Regions from separate parts of the Homo sapiens genome. Here region 1 is linked to region 2. Evidence: fine-mapped expression QTL. Tissue or cell type: whole blood. Region 2 holds a variant in brackets; the other region holds the start of a gene. All regions are shown on one strand. Distances are from middle to middle.

Region 1 (6,989 bases), 110 kb before region 2:
TTTGTTTACCTGGATTATTAACAAAAACTGTGACAGTCATTATTGAAGTTATTTCCCTGTTAACCATTTTTATAGCTGTGAATTTCAGGTGTTTACTTCAATAATGAACTTATGATTAAATATAAGAGTATTTTTTCCAGTAACTCATGATTTAGCTGTTTTCATTAAACCAACCATATTCCATGTCTTATTTATCAAAAATTATACAAGCAAAGATCATTCTGTCTTGGGCTGGGTTTTATAGTTTTATAACCCTATGGCTAATCTTATAGTATTCTGAAGGAATAAGCATGAAGCTACTTGATCAATAAATGCAAACAAAAATACTAACAATTCTTAGAACATTTTAATTTTTTTTACCAATGATTTTAAAGACAGTTTATTTATTAAATATTTTACTTGTCACGTGAACTTGAAAAGCATTGATTAGTATTTTTTGATCAAGTATTTAAGTGCTTTTATTTTTACTTAAGCTAATTAGAGCTCTTTTACATATTTTTAGTAGTGACACATTGTGTACACAACACATAAATGCATAGCGTATTAGGCATGGCAATAGAAGTACATCTTATGTATTTGTAAGACCTCTTTTTCCCTTAGACTTTTAAATTCATGATAGCCTGTTTCATCACCCTGGGCAGTTGTCAGCTAAATAGTCCTACATTTGCATATTAAAGGAAACAACTCTTAGGTGAAAAATCAGATAGCAAAATTTACATCTCAAAGTACCAAGAGACAGTCTGGTTTGCTAGAGGGAAATTAAAATGGATTTAATTTGCCATTTAAACAAAATTATAGAAGTCTATTATAAAATCCTTTTAAATACACACACACACACACACACACACACACACACACACACACAGATCCTATAGCTTTTACTTCAGAACTTTAGCCATGAGATAAATACAAATTCCCCAGCTTGCAAAAAAAAAAAAAAAAAAAAAAAAAAAAACAAGAAAACAAAGAAAAAGAAAAATAGGTTAGATCCAAACAGTGGTTTTTAATTTCAGTACAAAAGTAAAAGCAGATTTAAAGCAGGCAGAAAATATAGAGAAGAAGAGAACTTAGGAACTCTATAGTGTACAGGTTGACCTTAGGGCTCTTTTCCTTAATGTAAATGTGCACAAGGATCATTATATTTCCATTTTACATAAGCTCTGGCAAGTAGACGCACCATAAAACCAACAGAGTGCCCGAAATGAGGTCATTCTCCTTGTTTTCTCCTCATTCTTAGATCATTTGTTTCCCACCTTTTTTTTTCTTAGAAGTAGGAACTGAGCTGTGGCCTAGGGTTTTTGTGTGGTGGATCAATGTGTGCTGCTTGTGGGCAGGACCCCACCATGTGTCACCACTGAGTTGTTTCCACCCTGTTACATGTCTCAGTTTCTCTCTCCAGAGGTCTATTACCTTTGAGAGGGCTCAAAATGATGGGTGATCAGTCCTTATATGCATTCCTGGACAAGCCATTTTTAAAATTAATTTTTGTTGGGGATTTCCCCATAGGGCTGCTGCATGTCACAGGATGTCAACCCCCCCCCAGACACTCCCACAAGGCCCCCAGTCACCCAGGAGCACGTTTTGGCTGGGAGGAGCAAATGCCTTTCTCTTTGGAGTTGAGAAAACTCAGTCTCTCATTTACCTATGAAAACAACAGTTCAATTCCTCACACAAATGCGCAGACAAGCCGAATCAAGATTAATTTTGGGAGAAAAAGCAATAAAGAAAACCCTTTAGAATGTGTCTCTGAACTAGAATTAGAATCCTTAAACAACAACTTCCTAGGAGAAAAACCAGCTCACACTAAACGAAGGACTGTCAACCAAAGGGCGATCTGGGGCTCAGGAGAACTTAACCAGTTCCATCGGGGGAGAAGCTAGAAGTCTGGGAGGCTTCAATGGGCCCCACTGGTATCTTCGCTCCGAGTTCAGGCAACTCCTTTGGGGTCCTGAGTCTTCTCTGAGGCCCCACGCTGGGTGCCAAATTATTGTGGAAGAGTCAAACTCTGTAAAATATTTGAAGAGATTTATTGTGAGCCAAATATGAGTGACCACAGCCAGTGACACAGCCTTCAGGAGGTCTTGAGAACATGTGCCCAAGGAGGTCGGGGTGCAGCTTGGTTTAATACATTCTGAGGAGGCATGAGACTTCAAGTTAAGTTCATTTAAGAAATAAATTTGTTTGATCCAGAAAGGCAGGAAAACTCAAAGAGGGGGAGGGTGGTTCTAGGGTATAGGTCAACTTAAACATTTTCTGGTTGACAATTGGTTGAGTTTGTCCAAAGACCTGGGATTAAAGAAAGGAATGTCTGGGTTAAGAGGTTGTGGAGACCAATGTGTTTTATCACGCAGATGAAGTATTCGGATAGGGTAGCAGGCTTCAGAGAGAAGAGGCTGTAAAATGTTTCTTATCAGACTTAAAGTCTGTGTTGATGTTAATGCAGGAGAGGGATAATGAGGCATGTTCGGCCTCCACTTCCCCTTATGGCCTGAACCAGTTTTTCAGGTTAAATTCTAAAAGTCCTGGCTGAGGAAGAAGTCCATTCGGATGATTTGGTGGTTGGGAACGGGGAGGTGCCTTATCATTTATTTTTTGGTTTAAAATATAATGATATATTTTACCAAGTCTTGTGAACCATCAGGCCTCCCTCAGGCCCGGACTGGGAATTGCCAATTTCGTTAGGTGTGACCGTAATACTATGAGAATGTTTAAAAAAATAGGCCTTACTGATTAAACATACTCGAGTATTTAAAGGAGAATTTATCCACTGGGATGCTTTAAAATTACTCTGGGAAAAAAGGGAAAACGAAAGGCATGTGTGGGGTGAAGCACAGACTTGTCGTTGTTGTTTTTAAAGCAAAAGGCGGGTCCCAAGGGAAGTTGGCTGTCGGTGGGTTCCCGTTCTCCGTACCTTTCTACCTTGACAGCTCCATAATAAAACCTGCAGCCGCATAGGCGCCTCTCCCGTAGCGCTCCCGCGGGGGCGCCAGTGGGGCCCCAGCTGCGAGGAGGGCCCGGGCTCGCGAGACTCGGTCCCCCACTTCCGTCCCCGCGATCCCCGGCTCCCAGCCCCCCGGGCCCCCGGCGGGGCTCTGCGCTGCCGGAGCTTGGGCGTCTGCTGCTGTCCCGGAGCGCCAAGTCGTCCGAGGTCCGGCCGCCCGGCCGGGGCGGGGCCAGGGAGGCCCGGCCTTCCCGCTTCCTGCCTGAGCCGCAGGCCCGCCCCTGCGTCCTCCGCCCGCCTCTTTCCCGCCGCCGCCTGGGAGGGGACCCGGTAAGCGCGGCCCTGTTCCGGGCGGGGTTGGGGCGGAAGGTGGGGTCAGCTGGGGCCCAAGGGGGGTCGGGGAGGCGCGCGGGAGAGGGCGCCCGGGAGTGGGTGCGCGGGAGGCGAGTGAGCCGGGCGCCGGGCCCTGGGGGCTCGGCGGGAGGGGGAGTCAGGTGGGGACCGGGATTTGGGGGACTCGGTGGGGGAAAGGCGCGCGGGAGATGAGGTAAACACGAGGGGTCGGAGGGGCGGCCTGGGGCGGGGTGGGGCCATGCCTGGGGTAGGCCACGCCTCGGGGAGGCCGGGAGAGAACCCAGGCGCTGGGGGTCGCGGGGGAGCCGGCCGGTCCTACCCTTAGGTGTCTGAGGCCGCTCCCCACACCGCTGCGGTGTGCATTCAGCGGCCCTGTCTCCTCCTTCCTGGCCTGCTCAGGGCACGGCTCCTGGTTGGATGTCACACGCGTGACTCCTGCAGCGCCCGCGCGCAGGGACCCCTCGCTGCCTCAGCCAGACCTCCCGCCAGCCTCTACCACAGGCTCAGCCCACTGTCCTGGGTGGGCTCGGTGCAAACCTCTGGTGAAGAAAACCTCCTGGGGGTGCCCAGCCGGGAGTCTGTCTCAGAGTCCCACACTCTCTCCATCCAGGAGAGCCGGTGGGATAGGTCTCTTTAAAATCCCGTTATTTATTTGTTTATTTTTTCCTCTTTCTTCCAGTTTTTTCCATATGACTTTAGTGATCAAATCCCACTTTTTTTTAGAAGGCTTTTTTTACACCAGTGGTTTTCAAACTGTGGTCCCAGGACCAGCAGCACTGCCTTTCCTGAGATCTGCTAGAAATGCGGGTTCCCCAGCCCCACCCTGACCTTCTAAATCCTAAACCTTGGGGGTGGGTCCCCATACTTGTCTTTAGCAGGTCCTCCTCGTGGTTCTGACCATTGATCTGAAACCTTAGGGCTTTGAGGAGTCTGAACTGGGGTTGAGGATGGGCCAGGTGCCCTGTGATGATAATGCATGACTCCATTTAATCTTCACAGCCCTACACAGTAGGTAGTATTACCCCATTTCACAGATTAGGCAACAGAGGTACAGAAAGTTTAATTTTTCCAAGGTCACAGACCTAGAAAGGGGAGGAGCTGGGATTCCAACCTTGGGTTCCGGCTCCAGAACATTCCCACTGAGGCGAGGTCCCCTGTGAAGGTGGGGAGGGGTGAAGCCCAGAGGTCCTGGCGGCCTCCCTGCCAGGCAGAAACCATTAGTTCCAGAATCACGACCAGCCAGGTGCGTGGTCAGCAGTGGCCCTGCCTGCCTGCCTTTGGGCGAGCCCTGGTCTGTGTGAGCTGCTGGGTCCAGGTCCCCGGGCAGGATGTGTTCGCACTGGGGTGCTGACGGGGCGCCTAGAGGCCTGGGTCCAAGGCCAACCTCACAGGGTGACACAGGGATGCTTCTGGGTGACAGAGTGTCCGTTTCCTCCTCAGTCTGATGGGGGCGGATACCCCCCAACCCCATGCTGGCAGCTGGGAGGGTGGGCAGCCTCACAGACTCAGGCGTGGCTCTGAACTGTGGCCCCAGGTGGTCCACAACCTGTCCTGCCCAGCCTAGCCCCTTTCAAGGCACAAGGGTCTCTGACCACTGCCCCATAGCAGGGTTTCTCGGCCTCCACACTACTGACATTTGGGGTGGGGCAGTTCTTTGTTTTGGGGGGCTGTCCTGTATCACCCCCTGTCGGGACAACCAAAACCATGTGCAGACATTGCCCAATGTCCTCTGTGGGGACCTTGGAGGCAATGCCTCCACTGGCATCTTCTGGCATCTTGGCTCCTCCCTGGGGCTCTGGGATTAGAGGTTTCCTGGCCCACAGCCCACTTTCCCACAGGAGCCTCCTCCAGCCTGTGCTTGGTTGTTCATCTGCACGAGCTGTCAGTGACACAGGGACATTGGAGCATGTTCTCCTTGCAAACACTCCAACATTCAGGTGGAGCTGAGGGGCCTTTGGCCATGTCCACAGCTGGGAGATCCCCCACCCTGCAAGGGGCACAGAGCAGGTGTGGTGCTGACACCAGCTGGGCCCTGCTCCCGGGTCACCCTGGCCAGGCCTTCCTCTGGCACCATGTGCAGGCACAGTGAGGGTGGACCAGGGCTGGGGCTCTCTAGGTACAGCTGCACACGTGTTCCCAGCATGAATCACGGATCAGGGCTGCGCCAGCACCTGCCGCTCTGGTGTTTGCTGTCACCAAGCACAGTGGCTGCGCACTCTTGGGTTAACCTCCTCAGGCACGCGTGTGAGTGACTCACCAAGACTGTGGCTGAGTGAGGATGTGTGGCCTGGAGTGGTCACTGCCCAGTTGCCTCTGGCAGAGGCAGACCCAGAGCCCTGTGGCTGTGTTCCAGGCCCTTCTCCCCACCCCTTGCCCTAGTGGTGGTGAGGTGAGGTGCATCACACCAGGTTCATTTATTTATATTAAAAAAATTTTATTGACACATAATAGATGTACATATTTTTGAGTTGCCTGTGATAATTTAACACGTTCATGTAACTTGTAAAGATCAAATCAGTGCAATATAGACATCCATCATTTTAGAGATTGGTCTTTTATTCCAGAAACATTTGAATTCTAGCTATTCCGAAATATAAAATAGATTATTGTAAACTATAGTCACTGTATTGATTCATCAAACACGATTTCTTATTTCTTCCATCAAACTGTGTATTTCTAGCCATTAACCATCCTCCCTTTTTCCCCCTGTCCCGCCACAGGCTTTGGTAACCATTGAACTTTCTACCTCCTTGAGATCCCCTCCTTCAGCGCTCACATATGAGTGAGGCCATGTGATGTTTGTCTTTCTGTCCACGGCTTATTTCACTGAATGTAATGACCTCCAGTTCCATCTATATTGTTGCAGATGACAGGATCTCATTCTTCTTTATGGCTGAATAGTACTCCATTGTGTATATGTACCGCATCTTCTTTATCCTTTCATCTGGTATGGAAACTTAGGTTGATCCATATCTTAGCTATTGTGAATAGTGCTGCAAGAAACATGGGGTACAGATATCTCTTCAATATCCTGGTTTCCTTTCTTTTGGATATGTACCCATTAGTGGGATTGCCGGATCATATGGTAGTTCTGTTTTTAGTTTGTTTTTTTTTTTCAGAGATGGAATCTCGCTCTGTTGCCCAGGCTAGAGTGCAGTGGCACAATCTCAGCTCACCACAACCTCCACCTCCTGGGTTCAAGTGACTCTCATGCCTCAGCCTCCCAAGTAGCTGGAACTACAGGCGTGTGTCACCACACCCAGCTAATTTTTTGTATTTTAGTAGAGATGGGGTTTTGGCATGTTGGCCAGGCTGGTCTCAAGCTCCTGGCCTCAAGTTATTCTCCCACCTTGGCCTCCCAAAGTGCTGGGATTACAGGCTTGAGCCACTGCATCTGGCTTGCTTTTAGTTTTTAAAGGAACTTCCATACTGTTCTCCATAGTGGCTGAACTAGTTTACATTCCCACTAACAGTGTACGAGGAACACTTTCTCCACATCCTTACCAGTGTCCATTATTCCCTGTCTTTTTTATAAAAGCCATTTAAAATGGGGTGGGATAATATCTCATTGTGGCTTTGACTTGCATTTCTCTCATGATTAGTGATGTTGAGTACTTTTTGCATATATGTGAGCCATTTATGTCTTCTTTTGAGAAATATCTATTCAGATCTTTTGGCCATATTTTAATTGGAT
Region 2 (7,699 bases):
AACTGCCATCTTGGAGAAGAGAGCGTGGTGAGGAAAAACCTGAGATACTGGGAAATGTACCTTTAGGCTGTTTCAGTTACTGCATCAGACTAAAATTTCAGGATTGGATTGAATTTATTTATTTTCTTATTTGACCCTTTGTGGGTGGGGTAGACAAGATCAGAATTAACTGCAGATAAAATTTTAAAGGTACATTTTCCCCCAAAACGTCTCCAAATGTGGTGTGAAAAAAATCTGTAAACCTATGAAAATTTAATAAAATGTGTTCATTTTTTTATCTTCCCGTTTGTGATTTTCCCGTCCTGATTGACAACTCATAGGCCTCTGCTGCTTACTTTCCTTTCCTCCTCAGAGGATAGTGATTTATTCAGTAATAAATGCTATAAAGGACAATGAAGAAAAAAAGCCACAAATGTCCTCTTGTTCACTTCTCTTTAAAGCAATGATAAACATTGTAGGGGAAGCTATAGGAAAAGTTGGACTACAATATTTCTGCTAAATTTTCTCAGAAACAAACGTGTCAAATATGCATTCCAAGCATATTTGAGAAGAACAAGATTATGTTTAGATATGCTGAATGATTCAGACTACCTTTTCATACCATTTGTTTTTGGCAGAGGCAATTATTTTCTCAATAATTTTCAAACTTTTATGTATCTCAGGGATTCTTTTTAAAAACCATGTTTTTGATTCATTTTATTTTAACAATGTTTAACAATGTAAGTCCACATATAAGATACCCAAGCTTTAAATATCTATACATATAAACTGATTTCAACATCTTTGGCTTCAAAACAGTAAAATTGTTTTTCCAATATCAAACAAGTCAAATTTGGAAAAGGCATAAATCTGTATGAACATCCTGTATCCATGGAGATGTCATGACTAAATTCAGAAATAGCCTCATCTCTCTTTGTTTTTGCTTTCTTATGTCTGAGTTCTGCATCCAATTCTGTTTATTACATAGTTTTCTATAAGATTGTACCCCTTTTAAACAGTGTCTATTGATATATATTCTAGGTGTCTGGAAGTCTTTTTCTACAGTCGGCTCTTGGTTGTCTCTGGGAATATGAATGGAAGGAGCAGAGTGAAAATAAATCTGAGGGCAATATTCATAAATAATCCAAGAGCTACACTGTAGTCAACTCTCCCCAGAGCCTGACCACAGTGTTTCCCTCTCTCCTCCTCCCAACCCCTGCCACTGCCTGACGAGCACAGAAATGACCTTGCTTTAGAGAGGAGAAGGACAATAGGAGAAGAGGCATGTTTATCATCAGCCCTGCAGAGTTGACCGCGTGTATAGATGCACTGCCCTTCCAGGCCCAGAGGGAGATTTCCCCTTCAGGAACAAAAAACAGTCAAGCTAACTTACAACTCCCAGAGCGCTGCAAGCAAGGGCTAAAAACTTCAGCCACTCGATCTCCTCCGTGAAGCGACCCACATTCATCACACTATTAAACAGATCTGTTGGGAGATTCACCACTTTCCACATCTGGGCCAGCTCCTCTGCACGGATGATCAGTCTGCCAGCAACCTGCAGGGCAGGGGACAGACACAACACAGAGGTTGTGGGAGAAGTTGAGACAAGGCCCTGAGAAACACCCTGTCCCCAGGCCAGGTCCACATCTCCCAGCACATGGCAAGGGGCGGGAGGGGGTGTTAGGAAGGTAAAGATGGCTCTGTGTGGCAGTTACCTTTGCAAATCCTAGTGAAGAGCATGCTGAAATATAATTTATTAATTGTCAAACTTTAGGTGTCAGAATTATGCAAAAGATATACATTTATATTACATTTTAATTTCTGGTGATGCTTTTATCTGCTATTGTATTCCTAAATTGTTTTATTCCTTATATGACAGATAGAAGAGCCTGAAAACAAAACCAAGGGGTAGAGGGCTTACCTGAGACCACTAATTAACGGTAAAATTAGAACAAGACATAGGTCTGTTTCTTCCCGATTGCACTGAGTTCTTAGCTCTAGACCTCAAGTGCATCCCTCATGCTTTCCCAGGAATGATATGGGGTATGTGGCTGACCCACGGGGATTTGATCTGGCTGCCTAATGTTACTTGATCCCAGGTATTTTAGAGCTCTGTCATGTTCACTGCACAAGGTGCTTGGTGGACAAAAGGAGAGAAGATGACTGGTTGTTGGCCACCAATGCAACAAGAGCACAGATGCCCGATGAAGTGCTCCAACACCTTTCCTGACTGTCTGATTCTAGTGAAATGCTAAGCCTCTGGGACCAAGGTGGTTAGCCAAGCCAGTCCTAAATCACCCCAAACCGCTCTGTCCTGGATCATAAAGCAGGGTTTGGTGGTGCTCAACCATATTTCCTGGGAATTGGCCAAACCACAAACTTTCTCAAGCCGGACCCTCCTCATGCATTCATTCACCAGGCAGCTCCCAGGATGATGTGGCTATGAAGAGGCTCACAGCCTCTCCCTAAAAGCTAAAAGCAATGTCTGGACCTGGGATAACTGGGGAGCTAAAATATGCCCTTCCCCAAACTGTGATTGGCATCATATTATGGTCTTGATCAGTAAGGAGACACTGTCGAGTGACTGAGGACCTGCACTTTTCTGGAGAGACAAGATTAGCATTGCATTGAGCCCCTGTACATTCTGCCAGCTTCAAGGAAATCTGGGATGACCCCACCAATGACTCAGCCTGCAGCCTATTTCAAAATTATTCCCATTTCCCCAAGGGAAGATTTACTTTCAGTCCACGGTTTAGTGTATTTTAGGGTGGTGCTAAGTGGTCAGCTGACTGGCAGGAGAACAGAGGGCTTTCGTCTGTACCCACCCAGCCTCAACACTGTCCCTACATTCTCCTCAATGCTGCAGCAGGGCCCTTACCTGAGAATGCAGGATCTTTAACAGCTCAGGTGTTAGCTCTGCCCAGTTACACAAAGCGACTCGCTCAGACCGCTCTCTCACCGGAGGCGTCTCTCCACGGGACAGGGCCTCAAAATAACTACAAGAAAAAAAGTCAGAGAGTAGGAGGATCCTATACACCAGTGGCCTCTGGCTGTTCTAGCAATCCTTCCCCCTTCTTCTGAGGGAAGGAGGTAGAGAAAGGAACCTTTGTAAAGTGGCTTCTATGTGTCATTGTGTTTAGTTCACTTACATATGGGAAAAGTCTGAATGTGTTACTCTCCACTTAGGGCACAGAGAATGCTTAGAGAATACAAAGCTTTGTTCTTCTCTAAGGATGAGGAAGAACCAAGAAAAGTTTGGGTATGCAATTCCCTGGAGCATATTGGGTTCAGGGTTTTTTTCCAGTCATCTCTGAATGTTTTATACACACAGATATATGTTACATGTGTATATATAATCTTGGGAAGAGAAGTTGGAAGAGAACTAAAAAGTAATGTACGTAAGAAAGGGGAAGGCAGCACAGGAATGGTGGCTACGGCCTGTAATCTGGCAACTGCAGAGCCTGAGCCTGGAGGACCACTGAGCCCAGGAGTTTGAGGAGGCAGCGAACTATAATTGTGCCACTACACTCCAGACTGGGTGACAGAGTAAGACCCCCATCTCTGAAGAAATGAAAAAGGAGGAAAGGGAAGAGATGGAAGCATCCTGGGGTGAATCAGGAAGGATTTCTGGCCGTATGTAGTGAGGCTTGGGGCTTCAAGAGGGAAGGGAGAGAGGGTTGGCAGGGCACTGTGCAAGGCTCAGGAGAGAAGAGAAGCCAAAGAAGGTTTGAGACAACCTTAAGCTATATGGTGCCTGTAAAATAAAACTGTTTCTCCATCTTCCCTCAAAATTTTCAGTGAAATCTGCCTGCTCCTCAATGTTTTGTGGAGTGGACTT[T/C]GTTTGGGGGCATTGTGGAACAAGTACTGAGTTCTGTTTCAGGACTGGCATAAGATGAAAAGAGGCTGCCTGCAGCAGGGAATGGACATGAGCCGCTGACATGTGGGTCACCAAAGCAGCATGGCAGGGTCTGTCTCCATCAAAAGCCTGGTTATTGACGATCCATGAACCACAAATTTCTGTTCCGCCCTGCTTTTTTCCCTCCATTACTTCCTCCAGATCCAGGTAGTATGAAAATAATATAGAGGGAATTTTGTAAAAGCCCACTTTAGGGTCAAGCCATACAATGATGGGCTAACGATTGCCTGTCTCTAAGCCACATAGCAAGGCAGAGTGAAAGCTACATGGACTAAAGGAGTAACTGCCGGTCACCACTTGGAGGTCATCAGCAGGAAGGGCACCTTTAACAATGTGCTTGAGAAATCTCTGCACACAGATCAGTGTTGGGGTGGGCGGGGTGTGGGTGCACTGTGACAACAGGAGCAGGGTGTGGACTCAGGCTTTATAAACCAGACTTCCAGACTTGGGTGGTATAAATGGGAGGGACAGAGACACACAGCACCTCATTCCACAGAAGTGCTGCCCGGGTAGAGTAACACTCAGCAGCAACATCTCTGGACTTCTTGTGGAATTGGTTAGACAACATGGAAGCAAAGCTGTAATCATGGATTTCATTCTTTGGGTTATTGAGCTTCATTTGCAAGTGATCAGGTCCATGGTTATACACATATATTGCAAATTTGAGTTGTAACACATGCCTACCAGAGGACAAATAAGTATATGTCCTGCCAATACCTGGTAAGAGGTTTCTTCATTGACAACACATATGTAGGGAAATTCTTACTTGCAATGGATTAAAAACGTATTTTGTCTTGGAAACACTTTGCAGAGTTTTATTCTCTAAAATGCTACAGGTTTTAAGTAAGTCACATACAACCATCTGAGCAGTGCTTTTCATGTCTGGATAGAATGGAGGGGGCTCTTAGGTCATGCCCTCCTTTTTCATTGTGGTTAAACTACAAACTAAGTTTTCATGGATGTCTAAAAAAATTATAGCACGTGATACAATACGAGAGCAAGCAGTCTACAATAGTGGAATGCCTCTTCCATAAATGTCAGGGACAATACTAAGCAATGTCATTTTGCTTACTATAAAACGGCAGCACAAGAACAATCAAATGGGTTTGAAACTAACGTATAAGATAAAGTCTGTCTATCTGACTATGCCAAAATAAATTAGTCTTCTGAAGCTAAAGTTCAATCTTAGAGGCAATATATAAAATTTAGAATGGAAAACTAAACAGGGCTTATTACTAGGCAAAGCAACCCCCATTTATGTTTCTTTTTATGAGCACCACTGGCCTATTTTCCTTCCAATTGTAAAAGCTGCATCCTAATCCAGACCAGGAGCACAACACTGGCCCAGAGACTCCGAAAGGCCCCTCTTAGGTGCCATTTTGTGTCTTCTCAAAGGTGTCCACACTCTCCCCACCATCTGCCCAGGACACCCACTCACAACCTCAGCCTGAGGACATCTTCCCTTCCCCAACTCACTGGCTTTCTCTCAACGGCCTCTCTCACTCTCACTTTCCCACTGAAACCCTCCTAAGCAGGGAATCATCAAACAGTAAAAATAGCCTGAAAATGGTCCGTGAGGTCTAGTTATCTTCCAACTCCTGTCTCAAGTCCTGGTTCCCCAGTTTCAAGCAGGCAAGTTTGTCCAAGGAGCAATTTCATAGCTGAGAGGCTTTCTGTGCAAAGCTACTTCAATCCAGGCCCGCAGCGATTGTTGTGTAAGCTCCATCTACTGAGCAGCCTCTGGAGGTCTCTCCTGAAAGAAGGCACCCGTGTTTGAGGCACACTGTTTTCAGCCATGCCTGAGGACCCCATCACTCTGCCTGGCCTTTCCCCAGAATGCAGTGTGTACTGTGAGGACATCATTATGTTGGCAGAACAAATCAGTTCAGAGAAACACCAAAGAAAATAACAATAATTTCCTCAAAGATACAAAGCCTCTTTGGTTGGGTCCAAGTATGAGTTTTAACAGCAGGGGAGGAAGTGTCTCCTTAAAGGAGTGAACTAGCAGGACTGGTCCCACCCCATCCACCCAGGGCTGTCGCTTCCCTCCCCCGGCTGCACTGCTGCCATCTAGTGGTGAGACAGGAGAATGAAGAAAGGCAGATTAAGCTGCGGAGATTCCCAGCCCTTCTTTCCACCGAGAGTGGGAAAAGGCGTGCAGGGAGGAGGTGGGTGTGCATACGCTGGTGTGACGCGGTCATCTAACTTGCTGCTTGCCCCAGGACACGGCCTATTGACCTGGCGTCCTACTGCTCAATCTGGCTCGCTTAGGGGAGGCATCCCATCCTTGCCCGGCTAGATGTAGTATTTATGTGTGGATTTTAAAGCATCAAAGCAATGCAAGAGCTAAAACAAAGACGATGCCAGTTAGTCCCGACCCCCTGGCTGCAGCCATGACAACCTCCGCGGTTTTACAGGACCCTCTCTCCCCGCCCGTCCTCCAAGAGATGAAGGCGAGAAAGGAGCACGTACTCGGCCCCCCACTGGATGAGGTCCTGCGGCTGCGCCCGAATGGCGGCTTTGGCAAACTCCTTCAGCATTTTCGGCAGCTCCGGCGGGATGCATGTTGGCTTATCTGTCTGAGCCATTGATTGGTTGACCTATTCTCAGGAGAAAAAATACATAAGATGAAAACTTGGACTCATAAGATGAGAGCAATCCTGGACAGGAGGTCACCCAGCCTCTGTTTGACACTCAATTTTGGGGACTCCGCAAGACAAATGCATTCTATTGTTACACAACGGCAAGGTTAGAAAGCCGTCTGCTAACCCCTACTTTTTGTTGTAAATAGTTATATCCTTTACGTAAAAATTACACAGTCCTTTTTTATTTAAAAAGTGGAAGTCAACAAAAAAATCCCTAATGGTATCACCCTAAAATATTGGATGTCTCCTTCCAGAATTTTTCAGTATAAATATATATGTTTGTAAAACAAAAAAATAAGATTATGCAAAACAGCTTATTTACTCAAAAGTATATCATGAACATCTTTGCATGTCATCCAGCTCTTATTAGCTAGGTAAGAATTGTAGCAAAATTTACTCTGAACCCTCTATGAATTAACATTAGGTTATTTCCATATAAAAATAGTCATTAAACAGCCATTTGATGAGCGTCTCTGTTTATAGCTGCATGTTTTTTCAACTCTAATTGTCAGGCGGAAAACTCGTACATTTTCTCTCAAAAAGTTCCAGGACAAATTGAAACAAAACATGAACATCCATAAAATATATACAATTCCATCCACAAATAAACAACAGATCAAAAGATTTTTTTCTGCTTTTAGTAGAGAAAGGGACAGACTAGATATGCTAAAAAGCTGTCCCTCTTCAAAACACCTAGAGGCCAGACAAATCTCAGTACAAGCCTTTCACATTGCCTTGCTGGGCTTGCAGTGAAGTGAGAGAAATCTTCCAGTGGCCAATGAGGTGAGGAAAGGGGAACCCGCAGTGCTGGGCAAATGAAGAAACTAGGGCTCACCTGGGCACATGTAGATGGCAGGAACTTGAAGCTTTGAGATAAATTGCTAGGCAGGGTGGATAGAGACCAAGGATTAGGCTCACAAAAGGCAAATGTCTGGACTAAAGGACTCCCCTTCTGACCTAAACTTGAGACCCGCCCAGGGACTACACCCTCAGCGTGAAAAGGTGTGGCTGAAAATATCTGCCTACAGGCTGGGGTAAGCAACAAAGAAACCTGTCTCCATTGCTGCTTCTAGTCAGGAGAGAAACAGTCCCCCAGGAGTTGGTAGCCACAGACTAGTTCTAAGTTTTCCATTTATACCAACACCAGCATGGCTCGGAA

Evidence for each region. PIP is the estimated chance that this variant, and not a neighbour inherited with it, causes the effect.
Region 1: it holds the start of SLC41A3, and the variant in region 2 is fine-mapped to the expression of SLC41A3 in whole blood (TOPMed, PIP above 0.99). The same link has a PIP of 0.9 or more in blood mononuclear cells.

The regions. Positions count from the first base shown.
Region 1 is chr3:126,080,375-126,087,363 of GRCh38, reverse strand. It overlaps SLC41A3 (solute carrier family 41 member 3), which reads left to right and starts at 3,240. Exons shown (of 11, transcript NM_017836.4): 1 at 3,240-3,271. ALDH1L1-AS1 (ALDH1L1 antisense RNA 1) reads right to left here and starts at 3,149. Exons shown (of 8, transcript NR_190231.1): 1 at 2,912-3,149. RefSeq lists silencers at 2,893-3,442, 3,483-3,592.
Region 2 is chr3:125,970,839-125,978,537 of GRCh38, reverse strand. It overlaps ROPN1B (rhophilin associated tail protein 1B), which reads right to left. Exons shown (of 7, transcript NM_001308313.2): 2 at 7,376-7,421; 3 at 6,368-6,495; 4 at 2,858-2,975; 5 at 1,373-1,534. The coding sequence starts at 6,483. It also overlaps the pseudogene ALG1L1P. Among named protein-coding and RNA genes, the nearest start is that of ROPN1B, 5.5 kb to the right of the region's middle. The variant T/C (reference allele first, on the strand shown) is at 3,818.